3 linked regions of the Homo sapiens genome follow. The protein of the gene in region 1 purifies or fractionates together with the protein of each later gene. This does not show direct contact. Each region holds a gene or a part of one and is shown in the gene's direction. Other genes may lie near its edges. The genes, in order: ACTR6, PUS7 and RAB18.

The links.
Region 2: the proteins of ACTR6 (region 1) and PUS7 fractionate together in Homo sapiens (co-fractionation; one large-scale study listed by BioGRID). This does not show direct contact.
Region 3: the proteins of ACTR6 (region 1) and RAB18 purify together in Homo sapiens (co-immunoprecipitation; one large-scale study listed by IntAct). This does not show direct contact.

What each region holds. Positions count from the first base shown.
Region 1 is NC_000012.12:100,217,698-100,221,351, forward strand, and holds part of ACTR6 (actin-related protein 6), read left to right. Parts: intron 1-717; coding exon 718-889; intron 890-2,310; coding exon 2,311-2,449; intron 2,450-3,654. UniProt on the Homo sapiens protein: Required for formation and/or maintenance of proper nucleolar structure and function. Plays a dual role in the regulation of ribosomal DNA (rDNA) transcription.
Region 2 is NC_000007.14:105,512,156-105,515,809, reverse strand, and holds part of PUS7 (pseudouridylate synthase 7 homolog), read left to right. Parts: intron 1-3,654. UniProt on the Homo sapiens protein: Pseudouridylate synthase that catalyzes pseudouridylation of RNAs.
Region 3 is NC_000010.11:27,510,793-27,514,446, forward strand, and holds part of RAB18 (ras-related protein Rab-18), read left to right. Parts: intron 1-3,654. UniProt on the Homo sapiens protein: The small GTPases Rab are key regulators of intracellular membrane trafficking, from the formation of transport vesicles to their fusion with membranes.

The sequences.
Region 1 (3,654 bases):
GACCATGGACTTGCTTACATCATTTGGAAACTAATTTTGAATAGAGATTGAATACATATTAAAGAAATGTAGAGATGTAGGCTCTTTCCAGAAGGGAAAGGGGGAATCCTAATAGAATAGAGCCACATATCCAGTAAACACCTAAATTAGGGGAGTGAAAGTAGACAGTACTAGAAACACAAGACATAGTAAATGTTTTTTATTTAGAATGTGTTCTTTGTTCCCTAGAAACTAGAATCATTGTACCATTATAGGTATATTATGAAGTTCTCTCTTGTCTCTCCTCCTTTTTTTCTTTGTATTTTAATTTTTGTTTTGTTTTTTAAGAGACGGGGGTCTCGCTATGTTTCCCAGGCTGTCTTGAACTCCCGGGCTCAAGTGATCCATCCGCCTTGACCTCCCAAAGTGCTGGGATTACAGGTGTGAGCCAGGGCACCTGGCCCTCTTTGTATTTTAAAGTGTGTGGAATAAAGCTGCCAAATTATCTTTGAAGGAACAGCCATATTAGCGTCAGTAATTATTTAGTTGTGTTTTGTGTGATTTTGGCAACAGTAAAGGCAGCCACACATTCTTCTAAATTTTGAGAATCCTGAAACTTCCAAGAACATTATTAATATATTATTAATATATTATTGCATATATAATTGCATATTACTAATTATTAGTCATGTGAGCTAGATAATATAACTTAAACTTTTAATCTTCTTTGTCTTTAAGCCAAGGGAAGAGATGGTGTTGAGTGGAAAATACAAATCTGGGGAACAAATTCTTCGTTTGGCCAATGAGAGATTTGCTGTTCCGGAAATACTCTTTAATCCTTCTGATATAGGCATTCAAGAAATGGGAATTCCAGAAGCTATTGTCTATTCAATTCAAAATCTACCTGAAGGTACATAAATAGAGTAAAATACTAAAGAATTATAATTGTTTTAAAAACATCATAAGCCCTGTGAACCCTGTTTCCTCTAAATAATTTCAGGCAAATTGGTGAGTCTGTTTTATTTGCAGAGATTTGTAGATCCCATAATGCATTTATATAATTCTTGATTCATCTTTGATTATAAGTTTTTTTTTGTGATTATAAATTCGATAGAGGAAAAATCATTATGGTCCATTTAAACTTGAAGAAATGTATCTCTCCATGAGCATTAAATTGCCATATCCATTTTAGGAAAGTTTTAATTTAACCCAGATCTGTACAGAATATAAATTTATAATGTAACAATTTAATGGTTTTCAGCTATTGGTAGACTGACTTATTCTTTCTGCTATATTTAGAGTAACATACAGGATTAATTTTAAAGAGATTGGAATATGGTGCTTCATAGTGATTTCTGGATTCTCCTGAAACATGCCTTAAGTAAATAATGTTCCAGAGTTTTAGGGTACTTTACTATCTCCCTGGTTTGCAAGAAGTAGGCATTGGAGAAAATCTAGCACAGGCCATGTGCTTTCCTCTCATTAAAAAAAAAAAAAAAAAAAGAAAAACATAATGCTGTCCATACATAATTATTTCACAGCTATTTTCATATTTCACATTTTATATAAAGTTGCAGTCATGATGTGTACAACATTTTGTACTACACTGCTTTAAGGTCATGGCAGAGTGAGACTCGAGGTCAATATAAGGAAACTCTGCCCTTGTTTTACTGAACAGAAACATTAGGTGGGACGGCCCATACCTGTTAATTCCTGATGGATTTTCCAGTGGTGTTTTGAAGGCTTTAAGTAACATTTGCTATCATGTAACTTTAATGAGTGTTCATACTTAGATCCCTTCTTTAAACATAGTTTATGAGTGTTTTTAACTATCAAAGGTAAGTATTGCACAACATACATGTTTGCCTCAATGAGATAATGTGGAGATTTGGGCTTGTAAGTTCAAATGTCATGAAAGACCTCGTTTTCATCCTTGTGGTAGCTCACAGTCTCAGCCTACAGCAAGAACCACCCCCCTTCCATTTTAGAGAAGAATAATTATAATTACCAACTGTTTTTTTTACTACAGTGTCACTCATTTATATATGGCTTACATGAGTGTATAGTAAGTAGCCAGTAGTTTACCCCCCTCACCTTAGGTTTTTCTTTTAAAGATCTATGTGGTCATTTTTCACTGTTTCATGTCTTTATTTGTATAAACTGTAACCTCATTACAAATCTTAGAATGGACCTGAAAATTTATTTGGTTTCCCACCAGTAACTGTAATCCCTAATTGCTTCTTATCTGATCCCTCATCCACATCTTTCCAGAAAAGTAAACAGATTTTCTAATGCCTTTTTTCCTTTCCTTCTCCTTTTCTTCTTTTAAAGAAATGCAGCCGCATTTTTTTAAGAACATTGTCTTGACAGGAGGAAATTCCCTTTTCCCAGGATTTAGGGATCGGGTTTACTCAGAAGTTCGATGTCTTACTCCAACAGATTATGATGTTTCTGTTGTGCTGCCTGAAAAGTAAGTGTTGTTTTATATAGAAACGAAACATGGAAGTCCACATGTAGAAAAGGTGGTCTGTTGACTTGAGTTTAAAACCTGGCTCTCCCACGGTGGCAGGTTCATTTCACCTGCTGAATATTCATTTTTCTTCTTTCAAAAATTGAAATGATAAACCTTACATTTCACTAAATTAAATGGAAGTATGTAAAGTGCCAGCCATAATGTTTCATACACAATGGGTGCTTAATTAAGTATATGGGGTGATTACTCCCATGTAGTAAATCAGCCTTGGTCCTAAGAGATTTTTATAGGCAAAGCAATCAGGTTATTGTCTATATGATTTATCTGAGATGTATTATTTATTGACAGTTTCTGTCAGGAATAGAAATTGAATAATTGAACCATTGTGATAAGTTTTATCAATTCATAAATTGTTTTAGAATTTTTTAAATTCTCCTTTAAATGACTTTTATTAATGAGGTTTTTAAAATTCAAAACTGTTTTATGTCTACCCTGTACAGTGTTATATGAGAAAAAGTGCATATCATCACTTCCACTTCAGTGGTTAAAATAAACTAAGGTAGGGCCAGGCGCAGTGGCTCTTGCCTGTAATCCCAGCACTTTGGGAGGCTGAGGCAGGCAGATCACTTGAGTTCAGGAGATTGAGACCAGCCTGGGCAACATGGTGAAGCCCCGTCTCTACAAAAAATTAGCCGGATGTGCTGGTGTGCACCTGTAGTCCCAGCTACTCAGGAGGCTGAGGTAGGAGGATCATTTGAGCCCAGGAGGTGGAGGTTGGTGTGAGCTAAGATTGCACCACTGTATGGTAGCCTAGGTGACAAAGCAAGACTCTGTCTCAAAAACAAACAAACAAACCCCCCTGGCAAAAAAAAAAAAACAAAAAAAGAAGGTAGAATTTTACAGCTCTAAGGGCTTATATATCATCCTATTCTATATTCTTATTTTGTAAATAAAGAAACAAGGGCTCATGAGTTGGCAAATGCCCTATGGTGAGTTAATAGCAATGATCAGATTAAAACCCAGTTTTCTTACCTTGAGTGAGGACTTCTTACCCAAAGTATATGTCTAAAAACTCACCCCTAGTGTTAGTGGCAGAGTTGCAAACAAGACCCCACATACCTGACTCTTAATTCTAGAGTTTTGTTTTAAAGCTAAAGTAGAATTTTCCAAAATCAGCAAGTTAATAGAAGGCCCTCATTGGT
Region 2 (3,654 bases), on another chromosome or scaffold:
AATAAATAAATAAATAAAATAAAATAAAATACAAAACTTAGTCGGGCCCAGCTACTCAGGAGGCTGAGGCGTGAGAATTGCTTGAACTCAGGAGTTGGAGGTTGCAGTGAGCCGAGATTGTGCCACTGCACTCCAGCCTGGGTGACAGCAAGACTCTGTGTCAAAAAAAAATTAATTTGTCTATGATAGGGCCATTGACTTAAACAATGAAAAATGTAATTTCATTTGAAATTTAAAAGTGAGTTTAGTTTATTCTTGTCTTTTCAGTTAGATATATCAAGAAAAAGAGATCAGACAAATGTCCACAAATATCAAGAAAAAGACTGGCAACCTAAAGGCCTGTTGTCAACCTAAAATAATCAAAAACGTCAGAATCTAGTACAAAGAGAAATTATTCAAGTGCAAAGTTTGAGGATGTCCCACCTGGAAACACCAGTTCTAAAAAAATGGAGTCAAAGTTCTGAAGTAGGGAAGTTTAGGTTTTATATAGGCAGAGACAGGAGTTTTTAGCAGGATTACAACATTTTTCGTACAGGGTTTTCACATAGTTACAGCAATTTGATTGGTTATAGGCAGTGTTTCTTTTTGGGGAGAGTACATTGGGGAAGGTGTAATAGTTATGGGTTTTCTGTCATACGGTTTAAGCATAAGCAGGACACCAAAGGGAAAGTTCCTCTCTAACAAGGGTCATTAATTAAGAATTTTTAGTCATTGTAGGCCAGGCGCGGTGGCTCACGCCTGTAATCCCAGCACTTTGGGAGGCCAAGGCGGGCAGATCACGAGGTCAGGAGATCGAGACCATCCTGGCTGACACAGTGTAACCCAGTCTCAACTAAAAATACAAAAAATTAGCTAGGCGTGGTGGCGGGCGCCTGTAGTCCCAGCTACTCGGGAGGAGGCTGAGGCAGGAGAATGGCGTGAGCCCAGGAGGCGGAGCTTGCAGTGAGCCGAGATTGCGCCACTGCTCTCCAGCCTGGGGCACAAAGCGAGACTCCGTCTCAAAAAAAAAAAAATGAGAGAGAATTTTTAGTTATTATATGGAACAGGAAAAATGAAAGTAAGCTAATCTGTAATCTGAAAAACAAATTGTAACCATATGTGACTCAGATCATAGTCACATCTCTCTCAAGGCTTAAAAAGTGTTTTGGGGATTCCAACAGCTTTTAGATTCTGTTTTCTTTTCTTTTCTTTTCTTTTCTTTTTTTTGAGATGGAGTCTCGCTCTGTCACCCAGGCTGGAGTACAGTGGCGCGATCTCGGCTCACTGCAAGCTCGGCCTCCCGGGTTCACGCCATTCTCCTGCCTCAGCCTCCTGAGTAGCTGGGACTACAGGCGCCCGTCACCACGCCCAGCTAATTGTTTGTATTTTTAGTAGAGATGGGGTTTCACTGTGTTGGACAGGATGGTCTCGGTCTCTTGACCTTGTGATCCACCTGCCTTGGCCTCCCAAAGTGCTGGGATTACAGGCATGAGCCACTGTGCCCAGCCAGCTTTTTTTCTTTTTTTAAACTCCTCCAGACATAACAACAATACAGTTCAGCTATGTAAATCATCCATAATAACTATTTTTTTTTTTTTTTGAGACGGAGTCTTGCTCTGTCACCCAGGCTGGAGTGCAGTGGCACAATCTCGGCTCACCGCAAGCTCCGCCTCCTGGGTTCACGCCATTCTCCTGCCTCAGCCTCCCGAGTAGCTGGGACTACAGGCACCTGCCACCACACCCGGCTAATTTTTTGTATTTTTTAGTAGAGACGGGGTTTCACCATGTTAGCCAGGTTGGTTTCGATCTCCTGACTTCGTGATCCGGCCTGCCTTGGCGATCCACCTGCCTTGGCCTCCCAAAGTGCTGGGATTACAGGCGTGAGCCACCGCGCCCAGCCAGCTTTTTTTCTTTTTTTAAACTCCTCCAGACATAACAACAATACAGTTCAGCTATGTAAATCATCCATAATAACTATTTTTTTTTTTTTTTTGAGACGGAGTCTTGCTCTGTCACCCAGGCTGGAGTGCAGTGGCACAATCTCGGCTCACCGCAAGCTCCGCCTCCTGGGTTCACGCCATTCTCCTGCCTCAGCCTCCCGAGTAGCTGGGACTACAGGCACCTGCCACCACACCCGGCTAATTTTTTGTATTTTTTAGTAGAGACGGGGTTTCACCATGTTAGCCAGGTTGGTCTCGATCTCCTGACTTCGTGATCCGGCCTGCCTTGGCGATCCACCTGCCTTGGCCTCCCAAAGTGCTGGGATTACAGGCGTGAGCCACCGCGCCCAGCCCATCAATAATAACTATTAAGGACTAACAGTTGAATAAGAGGAGCTATTACAGACCTTTGGCCAAGTCATCATATTTTACTTTTACAGAGAAAGAAACAGATTCGAGAGGTTAAGTCACCCACTTAGTAAATGGCAAAACCTAGATCTGTCTCCAAGATTGTTGAGAGGGGGAGGCCTGATGTTTTTTCTGCATAAGGAGAGGAGGTGAATATTTTGCTGACTGTGAAGTCCCTGTGCCAAGCTGTGTGAATGGCCGTTATTGGCCACTCTTTCTTCCTTACTGAGAGTTCTGGCCTCTGGAAGGGCATCAGGATCTCCTGGTAGAGCTGTGATGCCAGCTGGGAAGCTTGTATGGTCATTGGGGAGGCATTGCAGGTTTTTGGTAAGGGCATGTGTGACACAATGTGATGAGTGCCCGCAGATCGTCTCCACTGGGATGTCTCCCCAGGAACCTGCAACACCACAGGACTATGGGTGGGCTCATCTTCTTCCAACACCTGCTCTTCTTTCTGGGACCCTCATATCAGGAGGACCACCACTGTCCTCTCAGTTCCCCAGGGATGGAAACTTGAGTCATCCTGAAGTATTTCCCCTTTCCTCCCACATTTGTCACCTTCTCCTGTCCCTGCTACTACTTCCTAAATGTTCTTGAAAGTCGCCTTTTTCTGTCTCCCTTGCTTCAGCCTTAGATCAGATTATATTAATTTCTTGCCTAGATTACAGCTGTACCCTCTTACCTGGTCTTCCAGCCTAACCCCAGTTTCTCTTCAAAGGGGTGCCACAGAATCTTTCTGAATTACAAATTCAGTGCTGGTCTGGTTTTCAGGTTGTGACTCCCTCCTTGTAGCCTCATGTGGCCTCCGCCCCTCCCAAGCTGTAACCCCAGACTCTCCTTGTATGTCTAACCCCCACAGTGGGCGATGAGTTCTTTTGCTCTTCCAGCACTCTGTGAGCTCCCACGCCCCCATGCCTTTGCACATGCTGTACCTGTGACCCCAAATGACCTTCTCCTGCTTTTCCTTCCTCTTCCTTATGCCACAAAATTTGGCCCAGGCATTGTAGTCTTTGGTTAGGTTTTGTCTTCAGTGTGTTCTCCCGGTCCTTGTGTAAGCCCTGGTCCATTTTTGTCTCCTTCATTTGTACAAAACCTCTGAGGGTAGTTTTGTTGCTGTAAGGTGAGAGTGAAATCGTGTCAGCATTTCATAAACCAGCGTTCTTTTTTTGACTACACCTGTTCAGGACAAAGAGTAAATGCTTTTTTCTTTGAATTAGGGATACTTTTATGTAACTACAGTTGTGGTCTACTTCTATTCCAGTTTCAGTTTCTTCCATTTTCTGTATTTAATTTCTTGTCTTTCAAAGGATTTTTTTTTTTTTTTTTT
Region 3 (3,654 bases), on another chromosome or scaffold:
CTGTTAACTGGCTTTATTTGTTTTCATTGATTGTATGTCTATTTTTAAAATTTTATTGTGAAACAATTTCAGACTCAAAGATTTGTAAAAATAGCACAAATAATTCTTATGTATCCTATTAAATTACTCCAGATGTTAATGTTTGTCACATTTGCTTTATCATTCTCTCTCTACACACAGTATTCTTTTTTAAAAAAATGAGAGTAGATTGTAGACATGATGTCTTCAACGTCTGCATACTTTAATGTGTATTTCTTAAATGAACATAGATACATTTTATTGTCTATACACAGATTTTATCAGTTGTCCCATTAATGTCCCATATAGCAAAAGACAAATAATTGTTTCGGGTCCAGGATCATACACTGATTTTAGTTATTTCTCTTTAGCCTCTTTTATTTCATTTAATTAATGAATTAATTTATTTTCGAGACAGAGTCTAGCTCTGTCGCTCAGGCTGAGTGCAGTGGCACCAACTCAGCTCAGTGCAACCTCCACTTTTCAGGTTCAAGTGATCCTCCTGCCTCAGCCACCCAAGTAGCTGGGACTACAGGCACATGCCACTGCGCCTGGCTAATTTTTTTTTGTATTTTTGATAGAGACGGGGTTTACCATGTTGGCCAGGCTGGTCTTGAGCTCCTGACCTCAAGTGATCTACCCACCTCGGCCTCCCAAAGTACTGGGATTGCAGGTGTGAGCCACCGCGTCGAGCCTCTTCAGCCTCTTTTAATCAGCAATTCTTCAGTCTTTATTTGCCTTTTCAGGGCCTTGACATTTTTGAAGAGTAAATAATTATTTTGTAGAATGTCTCTCAATTTGTGTATGTCCAGTATGTCCTTAACGGTTAGATTCAGGTTATGCAGTTTTGGCAGCAATTCCACAGAAGTGTTTTTCAGAACATAGTGTCAGTGAAGTTATTATTTTTCCCTTCATAACTAATATATTTCTTGTAGAGAGATACATTGAGACTGTATAGGTATCCTCCTTCTTACACTTTTTGCCCTCCTGTTGTAGCATCCATTGATAATTCTTGCCTGTGACAAGTGATAAGGACAGTATATGATCTTTTCATTCCAACTGTGATGGTTATCAAATGGGGATTTTTTTAAAATGCCATCACTCTGTCTATGTATCTTGTTTGGAATTCTGTAAGTAAGAGCTCTTTTTTTTTCTTTTTTTGTGAGGCAGTGTCTCACTGTGTTGCCCAGGCTGGCCTGAGACTCCTGGGCTCAAGTGATCCTCCTGCCTCAGCCTCCCAAGTAGCTGGAACTACAGCCATGTACCACCATGCCCAGCTCAGGAGGAGCTCATGTTTGTTTGTTTCTTTTTCTTCATATGAACTCATGGTGCCTCTAAATTTTCAATAAATTAGGCATTACTTAGCTTTTGCATGATATTAAGATTTACAGATTTACTCTTATTTGTGTCATAGGAAAGGGAATCATTTAAAACACGAATTCAAAATCCATTGTAATTTGGCTTTGTTGTATTATAATAATAATTATTATTATTTAATTTTATTTATTTATTTTTAGACACAGTCTTGCTCTGTTGCCCAGGCTGGAGTGAAGTGGCACAACCTTGGCTCACTGCAGCCTCCACCTCCCCATTCAAGTGATTCTGGTGCCTCAGCCTCCTGTGTAGCTGGGACTACAGGCATGCACCACCACACCTGGCTAATTTTTGTATTTTTAGTAGAGATGGGTTTTGCTATGTTGGCCAGTCTGGTCTTGAACTCCTGGCCTCAAGTGATCCACCCACCTTGGGCCTCCCAAAGTGTTGAGATTATAGGTGTGAGCCACTGTGCCCATACTGGTGTATTATTTACTCCTATAAAAAATTACTTAGTAGTAAAACCTTATTTTGGTCAGAACCTGCCTGAGTACGTATTGGTATTGGCTAGCCAGGAGGAGAGCAGTAGCAACTGGCAGGAAAATAAACTTGCCTAAAGTTAAAATTTTACTGAAGGAATGAACATACATATAATATTAACTGTCTTCATTACAAACCCAAATGGAATTTGGGGACTTGTGGCATGACAAATCGTGGGTTGTCTTTATTACTAAAAAGGCTTTGTCTTCTGCAAAGACAAATACTAAGATTATAGTATGCTGGTGAAAATATATGTAATTTGTTCCCCAAATAGGCCCTAGATCTTGAATATGTTGAACAAAATATCTTTTACATTGAAGCATCAGATTACTTTCAGCCTTAGGTAATAACATATATATATATATATATTTTTTTTTTTTTTTTGGAGACAAGAGTCTCGCTGTGTTGCCCAGGCCGGAGTGCAGTGGTGCATGATCTCAGCTCACTGCAATCTCCGCCTCCCAGGTTCAAGTGATTCTTCTGCCTCAGCCTCCCAAGAAGCTGGGATTGCAGGTGTGTGCCACCATGCCTTGCTAATTTTTATGTTTTTAGTAGAGATGGGGTTTTACTATATTGGCCAGGCTGGTCTTGAACTCCTGACCTCAAGTGATCCACCCGCCTCAGCCTCCCAAAGTGCTAGGATTACAGGTGTGAGCCACCACGCCCAGCCCACACATGAGTTTTAAACATAAAAACAATTACTTAATGGCCTTGTGAAAATTAGTGTTTTATGAAAATTGGTATTTTACCCCACAGTAAAATAGTAGTAAGGAAAGTGTATTGTTACCTTTTAGTAACTTAGTGAGACACTTAAGTTTCTGTCTTGCATAAAATACTCTTTTAAGATAATTGTTGGATTTGGGATTTGCAGATGGTACTATAAAGTTAGCATTCTTCTTTCTTGGCAATTAGCTAAAAACAACAAAGAGAGGGAAAAACTGACACACAAACCCAGCATTCCACTAAACTAGAAGACAGTTAAAAACCCCAAGCCACAAAATAGGTGGAAATGTTGCCAGGAGCAGTGGCCATCAGGCTGGCTGCATGTGGGAAGAAGTAGGTAGGATGCCGTGGCTGTGGAGCTCAGAGACAACAAGAAACACCCATGAAACTGCAAGGCCCCCCTGAGGTATAAAACCTAAACCCCTTGTTTACAAAAGTGAAGTGGGTTTCTTCAGCTCAAGGCAGGAGCTTTCCTGCACCTGGTTTAATTCTAAGAAGTCGGGGAAATGAAGCCAAACAAGGAGTCACATAAACAAGCCATTTTTGCAGGAAGTAATATGTGTCTATCTCTATAGCAGTTGGGGAGGAGATGACTGCATTGTGAAAAACCTCCAGACTGCCTGTCTGCATTGGCTGTTGAGAAGTAAAATGCTAAACTGTCTCTTAGGTAAATCTCTGAATCACGAAAAAGTTGTCAGTCCAGAACTGGAGGCACTCTGGCCTTCTGCATAAACCTCCTACAAATATCAGGTTCTGGACAACCAGCACTTCTTCAGAGATGAATAATCAAAAGGAATTCATTAAGCTTGACTGCCACAAATGTTTGGAAATAAAAAAGGAAGAAAGAAACAGAAAAACAAAGGACAGATGAAGAACAGTAACCTAAAATATTGCCATAAAGAAGATGAATATTGTGATCAAACATTTTGCCATGAGTTTAGAAAACTTAATGAAGTATTTACTGCTGAGAGCACAACGCACTTGACATAAGAGGCCGGGGAAGAAATAGAATGATTGCATGAGAAAATGCAAGGTAAGCTGATTGAGTGGAAAGAAAAA